Linked DNA regions of Homo sapiens: region 1 is linked to region 2. The links come from fine-mapping of genetic effects on gene expression. A gene starts in region 2. The other region holds a variant in brackets. All regions are shown on one strand. Distances are between the middles of the regions.

Region 1 (8,987 bases), 180 kb after region 2:
CAGAACTTTCTGACTTCCCTTTTTTTCCTGAAAGCATATAAAACTCCCATGTAAAAGATGCCCTCTCTGTACCAGGAGGAAAGAAATATCTTTATCACCAGAGACAGAGACAATTCTCTGTAAACAACCGAATTTTGTTAAAACAACTCTTATCTTTCTTTAGCTTTCCTGTATATTTTAATTACTTTTTCACAATTGCCTCACTTTGTCCAACATAGTAGGAAAGCATTGAGATTTTGCAACTTCTTTGGGCCGTCGTTTCTTTATAAAGTCTCTCAACTCACATAAAACTTAAAATTAAGTAAATCTGTATGTTCCTCTCCTGCTAGTCTGTTTTGTGTCAATCTAATTCTCAGGCCCTGCTGGGGTTCCTATGAAGGTAGAGGTAAAGCTTTGTCTGCCCTACACCATCCAACATAGTATCACTAATTCTATTTCAACCAGCAGTGTCTGACATTACTTCTTTCCCACACCCTTCCCAACACTGATATTATCACATTTTAAAAACTTTGCTAATCAGATAGGTTAAAAAGTGGCATCTCTTTTTTTAACCCAAATTTGCCTAATTACTGATGACACTGAGGATTTTTTGTATTTTTCTTGGCCATTCAACTTTCCTCCTGCCTGTTCATGTTATTTTCTCTTGGTCATTTGTCTTTTGCTTATGAAATTCTCATTTTTCTTAATGTATATCACTATACTAACTCTTTGATACATGGGCTGTAGATATCTTCTAATAGACTATTATTCATCTTTATGTGAATGTTTATCATACAGAGGTTTTAAATTTCAATGTGGTTACCTGCGCCCTGGATCTGTTCTCTTCTCACTTCCTCAAGGACTTTTTTACTCCGTGGATAATGCCCCTACCCTTCCAGCTTCAACCTCACCCTAAGGAATCCTTGCAATTGTTGAGAAACATACTCTAGTATGTCCCACGTTTTACAACTTCTTCTTGACCCGTCTCTTTCTCCAATTGCTGGCCTCTTTTTGCTTTGTTTCATAGCAACATTTCTCAAAAGACAGTTTTTTTCATTCCCTCCACTTCCTCACCACCCCTCCCGTCATCATCCTCTGTAGTCTGGCTCTATGACCACCTCTCTGCTGGAATTGTTCTTGTTAAGATCACCAGTCACCTTCATGGTGCTAGTTGGAGTCACATCTCTGTTCTCACGTGATTTAACCTTTTGGCAGCATTCACCGTGACTGACCATTTCTCCCTTCATGAAACATTTTTTTTTAGTGTTGGCTTCAGTAAGTGAGCTCCCTGTTTTCTTCCTAACTGCCTCAGCACTTCTCAGTACCCTCTGCTGACTCTTCCTCCACCACCAACTCCCTGAATGTTGGGGTGTCTCCCGGCACAGCCCTAGACTTTCCTCAGTAGCTTCTCATCAGGTGAACTAACTCCTGTGCCATTAAATATCTTCCATGTGTTGATGACCCCCAAATGCACAGCTCTACCCTTGACCAATTCCTTGAACTTTAGACTCGTACATCCAATTCCCTACTGGACACCTCCCCTTGGTTATTTCATACTTAATGGGTCCAAAATGGTTCTTTTTGATTTTCACTGCCTCCCCAAAAAAAACTTTTCCCACCCTGTTTTCCCCTATCTTGCCAAAAACCCTGTTGCTCAAACCAAAAAACTTAGGAATCACCCTGATTTCTCCCTTGACTTCACTTTCTACACCCAGTCCATCAGCAAGTCCCAATGTTTCCATTTCCAAAATGTTCTCAGCATCCACCTATTTTCATCCGTCTTTGCAACCATTACCCTATTCCTTGCACTGACATCTCTTCCCAGGACTATAGCTGTAGCCTCCTAAATGGTCTCCTGCTCCCTTCCTGCTTCCGTCCAGCTCATTCTCCTATTAACATTCTTTTCAGCATTTATCCCCATCTTAAGTTACTGTAATGACTTATTTCTTTATGTCGTTATTTTCTGTTTCCTCTACTATTTTGCCATCTCCGTGAGGGTAGGGACCAGATATGTTGTATCTCTCACCACATCCCAACTTCTGGCACATTGAAGAGTCTCAGTAAATACATTTGGATTAAATAAATGAGCAAGTGAATGCATGATTTTAAATATTAGGTAATATTCATAATTTGCTCAGAAAATTCTCCTGAGATTGGCCACTTCCCAGACTGGTGAAACAGGAGAAAAGGACCTTGTATATCTCAATGACTCCTGAAAAGAGTGTAAAAACAACATGTTTGGGAACATACAGTGGAGCAGGAGTTACAAGCTCAAATGTCTCTGGGTTCTGGCAGGTAACAGAAATGGGGAGGTTACCATGTGTAAGCCACAATGAGTGGTAGCGACCATCACAATCTGGAGACCCTCCCAGCTCCAGCTAATGCAGACTCATCAGCTCCAGCCAGATGTGGCCAAGCAGCCAAGGCCCCAAGGGTGAGCGATCTTCCAATTTTTTGAAAGATGGAAGTATATGCATACAAATTAGAATTAGTTTTGTTCAATTTCTCAGACTTGAAAAGAAAAAGAATCAGTTTTGGCTGTGAGTAATCATTTGAAACAGCAACTTAAATGAAGTAAAGTATATTTCTTTCCCACAAAAAGAGGTTTGTGGTATATAGTCCAAGACTCATGAAACTCTATGGAATTAGGGACCCATGCTTCTTCTAACTTGTTGCTCATCTTGGCATGGCTTTCATTCTCGAAGTTGCTTTATGGCCCAATGGACTGAGGTAACTCCAGCCATTACCTCCTCATTCTGCACACCAGGAAGCAAAAGGGGAAAGAAAGAGCCTGACTTCCTGGAAGCTTCTATGCCTCACTTTTATTTCATTTCATTATCTAGAACTTAATCATGCTGCAACTTCTAGCTGCAAGGGAGGCTGGAAAGTGTAATGTTTGTTCTAAGTGGACATGTGCTCAACTAAGAAAGAAGAGAAGGATGGATACTGGAGTTCTAAAGTAGGAGTCTATGCCAGAGCTGGCTATTTATGTGAAATTCCTAAGTAAGTTTTGACACCATGACGGCTAAACACAGCAGCTCTGTCACCTGATTTCAGCAGAGGAGCTTCCAGTGTTGTGAACCGTGCTTAGAGCAGTAAATGTGAATGGGATGCACTTCAGTGTCACATGGGGCAGCCCGCAAGTCTGGCTGGTGAGGATCAAAAACAGATGCAGGTTAGCAGGACTCAGACAGGCAGTGCAAACGGGGGTGTGTTCAGGTACCCTGGGAGGTGGGGGTGGGTTGTGGAAAGCACTGTGAAAGTGGGCCATGAATAAAGGGTGAGGGGCTACTGTCTCTTACCTGTACATCCAAGCTGTGCTCAGGACATTGGCAGCAACGTGGGAGGTCCCTGGCTTCCCTTACCTTTAGGTCTAAGCAGATATCCCAAGGGGTGCAATTTCTATTTTCTCTGAATTATAAAGTCCCTCTCAGTGTTCTGACCTCTCACACCAGGTCAAGGTCACTCTCTCTGGAGGGATAAGTGAGCCTGAACCAGAACCAAATTCCCTGAGAACTCACTGGCCCTTTCCAATCACTGTCTTCACTACCAGCCCTCTTCAATCCTCTCTCTCTAGCCCCCTCCAATCACCCAAATTATCCTTTTAGACTTGGACTCAGCCCAGCCTGAGGCTCCATGACAATTCCCCTCTAAATGGCCTCATCTCTCAGTTACACCAGACCTTCTTGCCATGGTGGCACCATGTGGTGGCAGGAAAAGAACTAAATTTGCAGACAGGCTTCCCCCACTTGAATTTCTGCACCAAAAGTTACTAGTTGACTGGACTATAAATATTTCCATAAGTGTAAATTGGTGCTAATAGCATTCT[T/C]CTTACCTACTTCACAAGGCTTTTTGGAGGATTCACAGGGTTCACTTATGTAAAAGGTCTTCATTTTTAAAAACTAGTCTAAATAGTTCTGCATACAAATTTAAGGTTTCAGTAAAGATTCTCTGTAACTGCCCATATATGTTTAAAATTAATGACTTTATTGACACAAACTTTGCAATGAAAAGTGGTATCCTAATAGGATAGTAAGGATTAGTTTCTGTCTCATACATACATGAAAAAGTAGCCAGATGCATTTTTAGTCACATGGTTTAACTTCTGGTTGCTGTCTCCGTGAAATCCAGATTGTTCTGGGGAGGGCCAGATCATGTGCCCTGCATTTCCTTCTCCCCTGTAAGTGAGAAAGTGTTTCTATATAAAACAGAGACACTTTCTTAAGGTGATAAATTCCAAACAACATGCAGCAGTGAACTGATGCAGAAACAAAGCTGTAAAGAGAAGCCACAAAGCACATCCCCAGGGAGAAAGAGCCCTTGAACTTGCAGGATCACTGCCAACCTTTGGCAGCTGGGGGCTCCTGCTGAGTAATGCCAGTGGGGACATATGAATCACAGGTTTTTCTTTTATCTTATTATTGTTAAAAACATTTTTTAGAACATAAAGTTCCTAAAAGCCCTTTCTCAAAGAATCACAAAATGATGAAGGTTTAGAAAAACTATAGTTGCGTGTATGGTAAAGTCTTGTACATTGATTAGAACACCTAGTTTAAGACACAAACCTACCCTGAATATAAAAGTTTCCATTGCAGAGTGATTTGCAACACACACTATACCTTAAGGGTCTAATTCAGTCTCCTAGTTATGAAGTCACTGTTAGATTCAGGATAGATAGTCACGACTAACCAGACCCCAAATCCCTCAACATCTGCATAGTACCTGGCACAGGATGGACATTTAATGTTTTGTGAATAAATATACAATCTGCCAATGGAAGGAAGGAAGGAAAAATGACACTACCCACTTGTGTTTGAAGAATAACAGAGTTAGCAGATAAGGAGGTTGCGTATCTGACTTTTGACCTGCATGTCAGTTCTCTGGACTATGTTACATAAACATAACACCAATAGGCTGCCTATTTCTGCTAAACATGGAATTTATTGATATAGTTTGGCACAACTTTAGTCCTATCTTTCCCAATCCCAGGCATGTTAACAATCCTTGAAAAATCATGCTACATTACTTTGGAGGAAAATACTTCCAGATGAACATGTTTCAAGACATACTAGAAAATTATTCCTATCAAAACATCCTTTTTCTGTGTCAGCTACCTCATTTCTAATGCAGTGCACATCAATCTAATGTCAGTATGAATACACATCAACCAGGTGCTGGCTTTCTAAAGTGATTCCTTTGCAGATGCCAAAATGACAGTCCTGGGGCAGTGTACAGAGAGGCCAAGGGGAAGCCATGCCTGCTGCCACATGTCTCTGGATCATCTCCCTCTCCTACGCAGTGTTCAATCTTTGATTAACAATTGCAAGTGACCCCGATAGAGAGGGAAGACAGTCAAGAAGACAAGCAAAGGGAACTGGAAAGCTATGCAAAATTGCAATGTCTAGCTGAGCCCTGAGGGGTATCCTTATTTGGATGCATTGGCCACAAGCATGGTGACATTAAGGACTGGAGGCCAACATGGACACTGGAATAGGAGGACTTTCCAGGCAGATGAGGAGCAGGTATGACTGCTTCACAGACACCTCCCAAAGACATGCCATGGGCAGTGGGTTGGTGCATGGGAAACTGGATCCGATCTGTCTCATACCAAGCTAAGGAAACAAGGATAACAAGGAGTTTTCCTGTACCTTGATTTTTTCAATATGTGGGTTTAGAGTTGGATGAAAGCCAGCTTTTAAGTGAACCTGGTAAGATTTGTAATGACAATATTTAAAATGAAAGAAGGAAAGAATAAGCTTGCCTGAAACAGAATACACTATCATGGGCAGGAGAGTTATAGCACTAAGGTGTGACTCTTTCACCCAGAAAATGCATTCCTACTTTTCTGTTTCATAAACTGACCTGTAGCTTTAACTCACTACTTTTACACCAGACCGTATTACAGGAGTTGCAAAGAGACAAACTGAACTGCACATTTGCAGTTTATTAACATATGTAAGCACTGTGCCAATACATTTACATGATAAGTAGAAGGCTCAGAAGGTCCCAACAAATCAGGCAGCAGTTTGCTGCCAGGTAAGACAGTCTTGCCAGGGACTCAGTAGAATTCAGGTCCAGCAAGGGGCAGCCACTTCTTCAAGGTTCTTTGATGGGATCCAGTGCCGTGAAGGACACTGAAGAAGTCCATCTGCCCTTCTGCTTGGACTCTCTGCTAGTTGACACAGTTCTTTGTGATTCTTCGACTTCTGTCCATCTGTTGGATGCTATCTGTTACATTAATGGTGACTTCTTTTGCAGGCATTCTCTTAGCATCTCTTTTAGCCTGTTAAGTTGAAAACAGTGAATTGAGTTACTAGGAAATGTAAACCAAAGAAAATGACCGAGGCAAGTCTCAATCAATTTAGAGGTTTATTGTGCCATAGTTGAGAATGTGCCTGGGAAAAAGGAACATAAATCACAGGAACATTTGTGATCTGTGCAAAAATTCCCAAAGAGGGTTTGAGGACTTCACTATTTAAGGGGGAAAGAGTGGGCAGTAAGGGAAAGAGGAAAGGAAAAGGGAGGGTAGAGAATAGGGGCAAACAGTTACATTCTTTTGAGGCTTTGATGAGCATTCACTGAATCCACATTTTATGTGTGAAAGGAGGGGATAGAGGAACAGTCAAATATGCATTTGTCTCATGCTCAATGAACTTGCATTTTTTACATAAGATAAAAGAAACATAGAATAGTTAATGAGTAAAATATGCATTTGTCTCAAGTGAGCAGAGGGATGACTCCTAGTCCTGTCTTTGTCCCATACCTGTGAAGATAAGCTGTTAATTTACATGGGGTGAAATCCAACAGAACTCTGTTTTAGGGTAAAGATCTTAGGGCCCACAAGGAATTTCTTTGTAAGAAATTGTGAGGGAGTCCCCCTGGAAGGTATGTGGCCTTCTATCTTTGCAGTTATCTGTTTAGGAACAAAATGGAAGGCAGTTTTGGGTGGCTTAGCTCCTAAGCTTAACTTTCCCTTTCCATAGTGAGTTTGGGGTCCTGAGATTTTTATTTTCCTTTCACAGAAATATACGAAGGTCCTCACAATTTGCATTAATCTCTTGAGATTATCACAAATACACACACACACATACACGCACACACACAGTCAGGAAGAATGACCCACAAGAACGCATGCACATATGCTTCCTATCAGAGGTTTCTTTGTTGAATCTTTAATACCAACACAGCACAGAGCCTGGAATAGGGCATGTTTATTAAAACACTGTTGAGTGAATGAGCTATGGTCCATCAAAGGGTAATGTGAAAGTTTTCATAGTTGGCTTTAGTAGAGTGGTTAAGTGTTTGAGCTTTGGAGTCAGAGAGACTTTGGTTCAAATACTGGCTATATGATTTCACTATGGGCAAGTTTTTCCAACTCTCTAACCCTTATCTGTAAAATGGGGAATAATAATATTATCTCTCTCATAAGGTTTTTATATGGATTAAATAAGGTAATGCATGTAAGGTACTTAGTACAATGACTGTCACTAAATGAAAATGGGAAAAAAATAAGCTTAAAAAGTAGGATAGACTATCTACTTCTAACTAAGGATAAACCAATGACAAAAGTTCTGAATTAATATTAAACATTAAAGCATTAATTAAATTGTAGGTTCTTTAAGTATATGTGTCCAGTCCCTGACTCTCCATCCCCTAAAAGAGAAAACAGCATTGGTGAGGGGCAGTGTTGTGCCTATTCTTGTGATTGTGTGCTGGGGGTGAACACGAGTGGGCTTGTGAGTCACCTCCACTAGTGGATGGACACAGTTATTTGCTGCCCAGCCCCATTCCAGAAATGACCTGCTGCCTCGCTGCAGGGAGAACAGTCAGCAAGTAGCCTCCAGCTGGGGACAGCATCAGCTGCAGAGAGCCACCTCACTCAAGTTTGTGCCCTTCCCAAGATGGGCCAATGTGCAGGTAAATGGAAGGGCATAAAGGTCTGACCATTTGGGCCCTAAACAGGTCAGCTCCCACAAGCCATTTAGCTGCATGGAGCAGGGGTCGCTGAAGCTGTTGTCAGCTTGCATTGTGGCTGGACTTCTCCCTTAACCCACTCCTGCTTCCATCATCCCTTTCCACAGGCGTTGGCCTCAAGGGCACTTCCTAACATCCTGTATAATGACATCTTGGTCTGCCTCCTGGGAACATAGTCTGCCTCAGATCCTGTGGGAACACCCCTCCAGGCATGAGCACCTCCTTGTGCTGGGTGTTGAGAGATGCACATTTTTCAAACAACATGGCCCCTGAACACAAACTACTTCCTCTGTAGTGCATCCAAATAAATGGTGAACTATTGCACTGATGGAGAAAAATCCATTGTTCTGTTGTATTTATTAGCAAACGATATGTATGTTTCTAATATGTCACATAAATCCTGTGTCCTTGTGTAGCTGATGGCGACACCCCTCTCTAGATCCCCTTTACTCTGCCAGAGCATCCCTCCCAGCTGCTGTGACTGTTGGCTGCTAACTGCTCACAGCACACCCTTCTTTTGAGAATTGCCCTCATCTGATTGGAGCCACCTCCTCCAGGAATGCCAAAGAGGCCCATATCCTGGATAGGCCCATATCCCATGCCTGATTGTTAGGATAAAAAAGGCTGCCCCTTAGCCTCTTGGGGGTACAAATCCATGGTGCTTTGCTTGCCCCAGGTCTCCTTGTGGGATCTGGCTGAGGCTAGACTACAGCTGTTCCGCTGACTGAACTCACACATTTGCTGAATCTGATCCCCTGCCCTGCCCTGCTTCCTCCATTACCATGCAGGTTTCACCTGAGTGTACTTTTTCAATTACTTGCATGAGAATTACTTGCATCCTTTCAATTACTTACATCCTTATCTCAGGTTCTGCGTTTAGGGAACCTAACCAAAGATCATACTTTATGGGTGATTTGAGGAACATTTAAGGATAATTTTGACTCTACATAATTTTAGTCTTATCTATTTATTTCATGAGATAGGATGTCATTGCTTTCCTCTGTGTGTTCCCAGTGCCTAGCACAGTTCTGAGA
Region 2 (8,987 bases):
TATATATAATTATGCTTAGAAAGTAATTTTAAGCTCGTATGTCTAAAAAAACTCAGTGAGTAAAAAGTAAATGCATCTTCTTACCCCATGACTTCATCCTGCTGTTTCTTTCTGACTCCCTGGTAATGGTGTTATATCTAACATTCAACAAAGCTCTAGCCTAGGTCATTCTTATGTATTCCATCTTCCATATTCCCTACTACCAAAACTCAAAGTCCTACTCATCATCTCTTTGCAACACTTACTCATCTTTCAACTCTCTATTTCTAGTTTTTTGTGTTTTGTTTTTGTTTTTGTTTTGAGATGCGGTATCATTCTGTCACCCAAGCTGGAATGCAGTGATATGACTATAGCCTACTGCAGCCTCAACCTCCAGGGCTTAAGTGATCCTCCCACCTTAGCCTCTCACCTCAGCCTCCCAAGTAGCTTGGACCTGAGGCATGCACCACCATGCCCCATTAATCTTTAAATTTTTTGTAGAGACGGGGGTCTCCTTATGATGCCCAGGCTACTCTCGAACTCCTGGGCTCAAGAGATCCTCCCACCTTTGCCGCCCAAAGTGTTGGGTTTATGAATGTGAGCCACTGCATTCCCAGGCAGTTTGGGTCTTCATTATCTTATACTTGGGCTACTTTAATATCATCCCTACTTGATTTGGCGGCAATTTACACTATTATCAGATGTCTTTTTTTTTCTTTTTTTTTTGAGACGGAGTCTTGCTCTGTTGCCCAGGCTGGAGTGCAGTGGCGCAATCTCGGCTCACTGCAAGCTCCACCTCCCGGGTTCACACCATTCTCCTGCCTCAGCCTCCCGAGTAGCTGGGACTACAGGCACCCGCCACCATGCCCGGCTAATTTATTTATTTTTTTGTATTTTTAGTAGAGATGGGGTTTCACCATGTTAGCCAGGATAGTCTCGATCTCCTGACCTCGTGATCTTCCCGCCTCGGCCTCCCAAAGTGCTGGGATTACAGGCGTGAGCCACTGCGCCCAGCCTATCAGATGTCATCTTAAAACAGCTTTTTACATGTCACTCCCATGCTTAAAACTTCCAAAGGCTCCCTATATAGTAGTCTTCAAACTTTCTGTGTGCCCCATTAATAACAGAGTTTTTGAGCAGATCCCTTCTCAACATATGTGTATGTTAATGAGAGCATGTAATTAAAGATGTTCTTTTTTTTTTTTTTTTTTTGAGACGGAGTCTCCCTCTGTCACCCAGGCTGGAGTGCAGTGACGCAATCTCGGCTCACTGCAAGCTCTGCCTCCTGGGTTCACACCATTCTCCCGCCTCAGCCTCCTGAGTAGCTGTGACTACAGGCACCCAGCACCACGCTGGGCTAATTTTTTTGTATTTTTAGTAGAGACGGGATTTCACTGTGTTAGCCAGGATGGTCTCAATCTCCTGACCTCGTGATCCGCCCGTCTCGGCCTCCCAAAGTGCTGGGATTACAGGCATAAGCCACCACGCCCAGCCAAAGATCTTTTTTTTTAAGAAAAATCTTGATTCAACACTGTGATAGATTTAAAGGTTCTAATTTCAGCTTAATTCAATGTTTGGTTTTAATGGCTACTATTATAAAAAAAATTCAAGCAGTACTCACTTTCGCACTGTACTGTATTAACGGGACGGGTTGCATACTGGAATCAATTCCCCACTTTGCAAAGTTTCGTGGTTAACAGATGTGATTTCAATCACTGTAAACCTCTTAAAGAGTGGGACTGGTTCAGTTAATATGGTACTGTGCAAAGTGCAGAATGCCTGTACTTCACAAAGAAAGCATACCCAAAATGATAATGTCCATAATTGGCCACGTTTATTTAATATATTTAATTTTCAGTCTCATCCATCAGTTTTGCAAAGATTATTTTTGAAGTCTAGAAAATTTCTATCTACTCTGATGTCAGCAGCTGTTCCTACAACTAAAATTAGCATTTTAATAATTTCAACAGAAGTTTAAAAACCCCAACAAGATAGATCATTTTGTTTCTAAATCTCTTCATGTAGGCAAAAATGAATCTTTATAGATGGAGAAACTGACATTTATTAAAGCAACTATGTGCTAGGTGCTGTCTTAACAGTGCATACACGAACATGATTCTTCCCCTTTTTGGAGGCTAAGTCTGATGGGAAAGACTATTAACCAAAATAATAATCATGAGACAATGTGATAAACACTGTGAAGAAGTGATAGAATCACAGAAGACGGGTGCTGAAGGGGGCGGGGCTCATGCAGGAGGTAAGCAGGAACAGATTACTGTTCGGTGAAAGTCTTCCAGAGAAAGCGGCTAAACTGGGTAAGGGTGTGTGCCACAGGAGGCCTTAAAAAAGATGACTGAAACGCACTGAGATTTGCAAGGGTGAATACTAAACCACTTGTGGGAAACGTAGTGACTGACTAAAGTGGCAAGGAAGGTGGGACCAGAGATTCAAGGACTGGGAACGATGCCAAATCCAAGTGACAAATCTAATTTATATTTTAGAAACATTACTGCCTTGTGACAAACTGTAAACATCTTTTGAGCAGAGACTTATTAGCAATGCTCACACACATGTTGATAATATCTCCTACTCAACCAAAATAGTGAAATACTGTTTTCGCCTCATCTCATCTCGCTTACTCCTCATTCAAACTAATGACACAGCCCTTCTTTCTATGCCTTAGGTTCATTCCTGCCTGAAGACCTTTGCTCCTGTTATTCTCTTTATTTAGAACAATCTGCTTACGCATGGTTGGTCCCTTGTCATTTAGGTATCACAAAGTACAATTTATAAGTGGTTAGCATGTTAACGGGGGAACAGACCAGGAAGGATAAATTAATTTCATTTAACCATTCTTTCATCAAACTTCTTAAGGGATGGTAAGAGAAAACTGATGCTTTTAAATTCATCTTTGTCTCTTCCAACATCCACAACTAATGTGAAGTAGTAAAGCGGCAAGAAGAGCAGTAGGAAGGTTTTAAAAGCCTGTTTAACTCTCAGCCCTTCAACCCACGAGTTTGGCTCATTCAAGTCCACTTTTCAGTAATAGGAACCTGAAGACAATCCCAGAGCAGCAGCTGGAATTTTTCTCCACTATAGACAACTGTTTCCCACTCACCACTAGAGGAAATTCTTAGAAAAAGGACTTGAACAGACTTTACTTGCTATCCATCCAGTTCCGCAGCGACTCCGTAAGCACAAAGTTTGCCTTAGCGAAAGGTAACTGAGAAAGAACCAGACCAGAGTGCCAGCCTCCCCCGGCTTTACTCCGCGAAAGCCGAGGCTAGACCCAACGACTTGCGGAAACCGTCCCTTTCTCCCTACCAACTTATCTTACCTCTCTGTAAGTCCAACTTGGTTTCGCGGACATAATTGTCCGGATTCCGGCTCAGCATCTTCACCTTCATCTCGGTTGCTCTTCCGGCCGGACTCCACGAGGTGTCCGCTAGGAGTTCCGCCCACCGCCACCTCCTCCCACAGGCGACTTCCGCTTTTCCCAGACTACTTCCAGTCACGTGACTCGCGGAGCGGCGGCCTGCTGGCTCAACTGGATCCTGCGCCGCTCCGTAGTTTTGCCGGCAAACGTTAGCAAGGGGCGGTTCTTTAGCTGTGCAGTCGCTTCCGCGTCCGTGGGCTGGAGCATTTGTGGGCGAGGCAGGGCGGAGACTCGGGAGAGGCTGGGACCTCCCCTCCATCGCGCTTTCCGCCGGCGTGACGTAGTGTCTGTGCCCCGTTCTTGCCCCCTCAGTACTAGAGTCTCCGGCTTCGCTCACGCGCCTTGGGCATAAGAGTCCTCTCGTTGGTCCCGGAGGTGGGGTTGCGCTCACAAGGGGCGACCGTCGCCACGGTGGCGGCCACTGCATCGCGTCCCACCTCCGCGGCCCTGGGCGCCGTGGTGTCGACGGGCCCCGAGCCTATGACGGGCCAGGGCCAGTCGGCGTCCGGGTCGTCGGCGTGGAGCACGGTATTCCGCCACGTCCGGTATGAGAACCTGATAGCGGGCGTGAGCGGCGGCGTCTTATCCAACCTTGCGCTGCATCCGCTCGACCTCGTGAAGATCCGCTTCGCCGGTAAGAGCCCGCCCAGACACCGGGCTGCATCCTCTCACTGTCAGCCCGAACTGGATCTCCTCCGTCTTTTCCGTTCTAGGGGGAGGAGGAGCGTTGAAGGGAGCGTTGCTGTCCGCGTTGGCTAACCTGAACTAGATTTGAGGAAATGGTGCTTGGTGGAGGGGTCGGCCTGCGATCTTCCCCGCTCCTCAAGACTAAGAGAGGGGGCATGTATGTAGAGAAGTCTGAGAAAAAACATCCTCATTGGCAGAGAAGATGGGATTCAAAGCCTGATTTGTAAAATAAAGAAGGGATTGTCACATTTTAAGGTTTAGTCCTCACACGTGCAAATCATTCACTCTTGGAGGAACTTTGAAATCTTAGCATACCCACGTGGTTTGGCAGCTCGACTAGTATTGGGATAGGGCGTAATCTTCAGCGAATGGTTGGGAGTAGATTTAGAATAGAATTCTCTTGAATGTTTGTTTTTTGGCATTTGTAGAATGGTACAAGTTTCTGTGAAAAAATAGCTAGAATCGAAATACTATTTTAAGTGTATTAGATGAATTGAGTATGTTGAAATTAACAAAGCATTTTAGAAGTTAAACTCAACACTAAAGTCTGGAAAGAGTTTCAAAGATGATCTTTGATAACTGAAATTGCAGAAAATAGTTTCCAAATAAAGTTATTACAAGTTAAGTTCAGCCTTGAGAATTAAATCTACAGAAGTTGTTTATTTTAGCATTAGGCAATTCAGTTCACTTGATTTATATTCTCTTAATATTTGTAGACTGCTGTATGGGCTACAGAAGTATCTAATAAAGTTCTTGCCTTCAGGGAACTTAGAATTTAATTGTAGGCGTTAGACTTAGTCATATAAAAGGTAATTCTAGACAACATAAAATCAAGAAATACAAAAACAAAATATAAATACAGGTAAACCGTTAAGAAAATTCTACATTACTGATGGCCATGTGTATCTTTAAGGTTCAGTGGAAGATTGGGGCTTGGGGTTTCCCATAGAAGGGCTAATATTTTGACAGCTGGAGAGGAAGCAAGAACCCGTTCTATGAAGGAAAATCATCGAAAATTATGGAGTATTATCTCTAGAAAAAACACCACAAAGACATATAATGTCATGAAGTTTTATGATGCATGCACAAATAATTATGTTATTGACAAGTAATCTTTATCGAGTATTTACTAGGAGCAAGGCAGTGAACTATGCTTTAGATGCATTATCTCATTTATTATCCTGTAAATCTATTCACAGGAACAATCCTGTGAGTTTATGATATCTGCTATACAGATGAGGATAACAGAAGTTGACTAACTTGCCCAAGTCACAAGTTTGTAAAGATGGATCTGGGATTTAAACCCAGGTAATCTAACTCTGGAACCCTCTGGCACTTAACCCCTCACCGTATTACCTCTATAAGTACCTGTTATACAATGGTTTGAACATTGGAAGAATTTTAGACTTGCCTGCAGGTGCAGGCCTGTATGACTTGCTGTCTGTCTTCAGTAGCATTTTATCTAGGAGCAGAAGAGGTGATAGTCGAGGTGATCATTGAAGAATAGTGTGGTTGGCCTGATGAGTTTAGACAGTGCTTTGAAGCATATCATTCCTGAGGAAAGGGAATTCTTGGTACCTGAGAAGATTAATAGTCTTGATGAATTGGGAAGAGTATTAGGAGACTAGTGGGGCTGAGGTGACAGATAAAAGGATTGAGTTTGGATTGGAGGCCTAAATTAAAGATCCAGGAGTGGAAGCAGGACTTTGTAATAATAAAGCTCACAGTGTAGCTGTGAAATGGTGATAGGAGGAAAACTTAAGAAGATGAATAACGAAATAAAAATTTATTGATTATCAACATCAGTGCTGAGTAACATACTATAATTTTTATGCTTCCATGTAATTAAACTCATTTAATAAAGTTAAAATCTAATGATGACAGGGTGTGGGGGTTAATTCTGAATGCATGTGCTATTAAACCAAACCTGGAATTTTTCTGTGAGTTCAAGTATAAATTGGAACTCAGAGGTGTCCAGAGTGGTAGAAAGATTAGAAATTACTTCATATGAAAAATGACTGGAGGAACTAGTTTAGCTCGGGAGAGAAAAAAACCTCAAGATATTTAGAGAACTTACATGTGGGAAAGGGGGCTGCCTTATTGTGGGTTGATCCTAAGGTCAGACACAGGTTGAGTGGAAATTACAAGGAAGCAGATTTTGGTTTGGCAATGTGGCAGTGCTCAGAAATGAAATTGATGATGATCAGAAGTGGTTCAGATAGTAGTTGGATGACAGAAGTTAGAAGATATTCTTGTATTAGGTGGAAAGATTGGATTGGATGATTATTCAGGCCCCTTCTAACTTTACTCTGTAATTTTAAACCCTCAAGAATGATGAGAGAGCCCCAACAAAGAATGAGATGTAAAAATAGTAATTTTCTCAAATACCCAAAAGCCTAATCTGCAAGTTAAAGTTGTGTGTGAGCTTTTGTGAAGAATGTAGAGACTATGACTACATCCAAAATATTAAGGAACCAAAACGTAAAATTCAGTAACAGTAGTGCCGAGTAAAGTTGTGTAAGTATGTGGTATCGCAAGACCCAGTAGCATAAATAAACTAGTACTTACAGAGTGCTTGCAATATGTCAGGCATAATTCTAAGAGCTTTATATGTACTAACTGATTTAATCCTTTATAATTTTTAGAGTTAGGTTCTATTATTTTTTCCTATCTTACAGAAAAACTCAGGCACAGAGCAATCAAGTGACTTACTCAGGGTTGCAAAGTAATTGCTAGAACTGGGATTCAAGCTCAGAAAGTCTGTTTCCGTAACATATGCTGTTAGTTTGAAACCATGAGTGGGTAGTTTGGTATAGCTAAAGGGTAAATTAAAATGCTAGAGATGGAAATAAAGAATGATTCCAGAAAGTTAAGCTGCCAGATTGACATTATCTTTTATGCCATGTGAAAATGGAAACTGGCAGTAGAACCACAACCCTTAGTAGGGCAGGATGTTAGGAATAAGAGACCAGGACTAGAAGCACAGGGATGGCAGTTGAAGCCACTTAATGGTTGAGACACCACCCCTATTTGGTGGAAATTGTGCCTATAAATCAGCATTTAAGGATGGGCAGAGAAAAGGGGGCCAAGGAAATTTATTGGCAAAGAAGCAAGAGGACATTCAAGAAAATGTGGTGTTAAATGAGCCAGAAGAGAGGGATTTACACAATATCAGGTGTATTAAGGGGTTCCTAAGAAAGAGAGAACTCCAAAGTGCCTTTGAAGGTTCTTAATTAGAGCGCTTGCAGTAATTGGTAAAGCTCAAACCAGATTGCAGCAGGGGTGAGAGAGTCCCTGCTGAGATTGTCTCGGGGGCCAGGGAGGGGCTGGTTTTCTCATTGCAGACACTTACCTGATAAGGGGGCACTGAGATCAAAGAGGAAATACTTAGGAGAGACTTAAGTCTATTTAAATACTAATGGGAAAGAACTGAAATCAAGGAAGAAATTGGGAAATGGAGGCAGGAGGATAAAGAGTAACGTATCTAACTAAGGTGGGTTATCTGAAGAAGCAGGATCTAGAACAAGCATTTTTGACCAGAACGCTTAGTAGGAAATAAATTTTACCTTTGCTATCCACACACAAACATTACTGAAACACAAGTTTCATGAAACATTACTTATCCTTAACTACTTGTAATGTCATTTATATTTGTTTTCAATTCCAGTCTGGTTTTAAAGAAAAGATACTGGCAATCTGTTCAATTGGTTTCTTGATTCATCTGCAATTTTAAAAACACCAATATAGAGCACAGGTAGGGGGGAGATTAATTTTATTAAGAGAGACAAACTTGTCACAGAGGAAAGGAGGGGTAAAACTAACATCCAGCAAATGAAACAGGTTGTGTAAGGGTGATAGTGCTAGATGATAATTTTTTTAAAGTCATTATATTGTCTTTCTTTGAAAATGAATTTAAAATTAGTGTCCTGTCTTGGCTCCTTTCTGTACACCAAACTTTTTATCTTCAGCTTGTGTCCATTGGCATTTTTTTAGTGCTGTGATAGGCCATTGTAAGTTATTTGATAGGTACTTAGATCTACATACTAATTCATTAGTGGCAAATGTTTTTAAAATGATCATGAGGTCATTTAAGCCAGTGGTCCCTAACCTTTTTGGCACCAGGGACTGATTTCATGGAAGACAATTTTTCCATGAACGGGGGTGGAGGAGGTATGGATGATTTCAGGATGAAACTGTTTCACCTCAGATCATCAGGCAATAAATTCTCATAAGGAGTGTGCAGCCTAGATCCCTTGCATGTGCAGTTCACAATAGGGTTCGAGATTCTGTAAGAACCCAATGCCACCACTGATCGGACAGGAGGCAGAGTTCAGGCAGTAATGCAAGCAATGGGGAGCAGCTGTAAGTACAGATGAAGCTTCGCTCGTACTCCGCCCACCTAGGTCACCTGCTGCTGTGTGACCCAATTCCTAACAGGCCATGGATTGGTACCCGGAGTTGGGGACCCCTGATTTAGACCAAAAAAATTTACTGTATTTTATCGATATAACAATTTTAATTTTATGTTAGGGAGATTATAGTTCAGCATTGGTTTATACCTATGAAAAGAACAGGTAGTGTTTTTATGGTTGGTTTTGCTTTTTACCTCAAGAGAGAAATGGTATTGTGAGTTTATTATTGAGAGGAAAATGGAAAGTTCTTAGAAAAAGGGATCTATACAGAAGAATGAGACACACAGAATCCAGGGGAAGCATCAGAAAGTTTATAAACTATGCAGGAAAACCTTTCTCAAGAGCCTGTCATTCTGCTGCCTGCCTTTAAACTTGTTGTCTTATATAAACCTCAAAAAACCCGGTGAGGTACATGATTTATCCCCATTTTATAAGTGAGGATGCTGAAGCTCAGAAAGGGTAAGACCATGTAG

What was found. PIP is the estimated chance that this variant, and not a neighbour inherited with it, causes the effect. A credible set is the group of variants that fine-mapping cannot tell apart.
Region 1: its variant is the best candidate, but not a certain one, in a credible set for the expression of SLC25A32 in whole blood (TOPMed, PIP 0.69).

Annotation. Positions count from the first base shown.
Region 1 is chr8:103,225,264-103,234,250 of GRCh38, reverse strand. It overlaps BAALC (BAALC binder of MAP3K1 and KLF4), which reads right to left. Exons shown (of 3, transcript NM_024812.3): 3 at 3,946-6,262. The coding sequence ends at 6,152. Among named protein-coding and RNA genes, the nearest start is that of BAALC-AS1, 58 kb to the right of the region's middle. The variant T/C (reference allele first, on the strand shown) is at 3,809.
Region 2 is chr8:103,409,846-103,418,832 of GRCh38, reverse strand. It overlaps SLC25A32 (solute carrier family 25 member 32), which reads left to right and starts at 3,726. Exons shown (of 7, transcript NM_030780.5): 1 at 3,726-4,049. The coding sequence starts at 3,896. DCAF13 (DDB1 and CUL4 associated factor 13) reads right to left here and starts at 3,447. Exons shown (of 11, transcript NM_015420.7): 1 at 3,317-3,447. The coding sequence starts at 3,386. RefSeq lists enhancers at 1-225, 3,366-3,705, 3,439-4,060.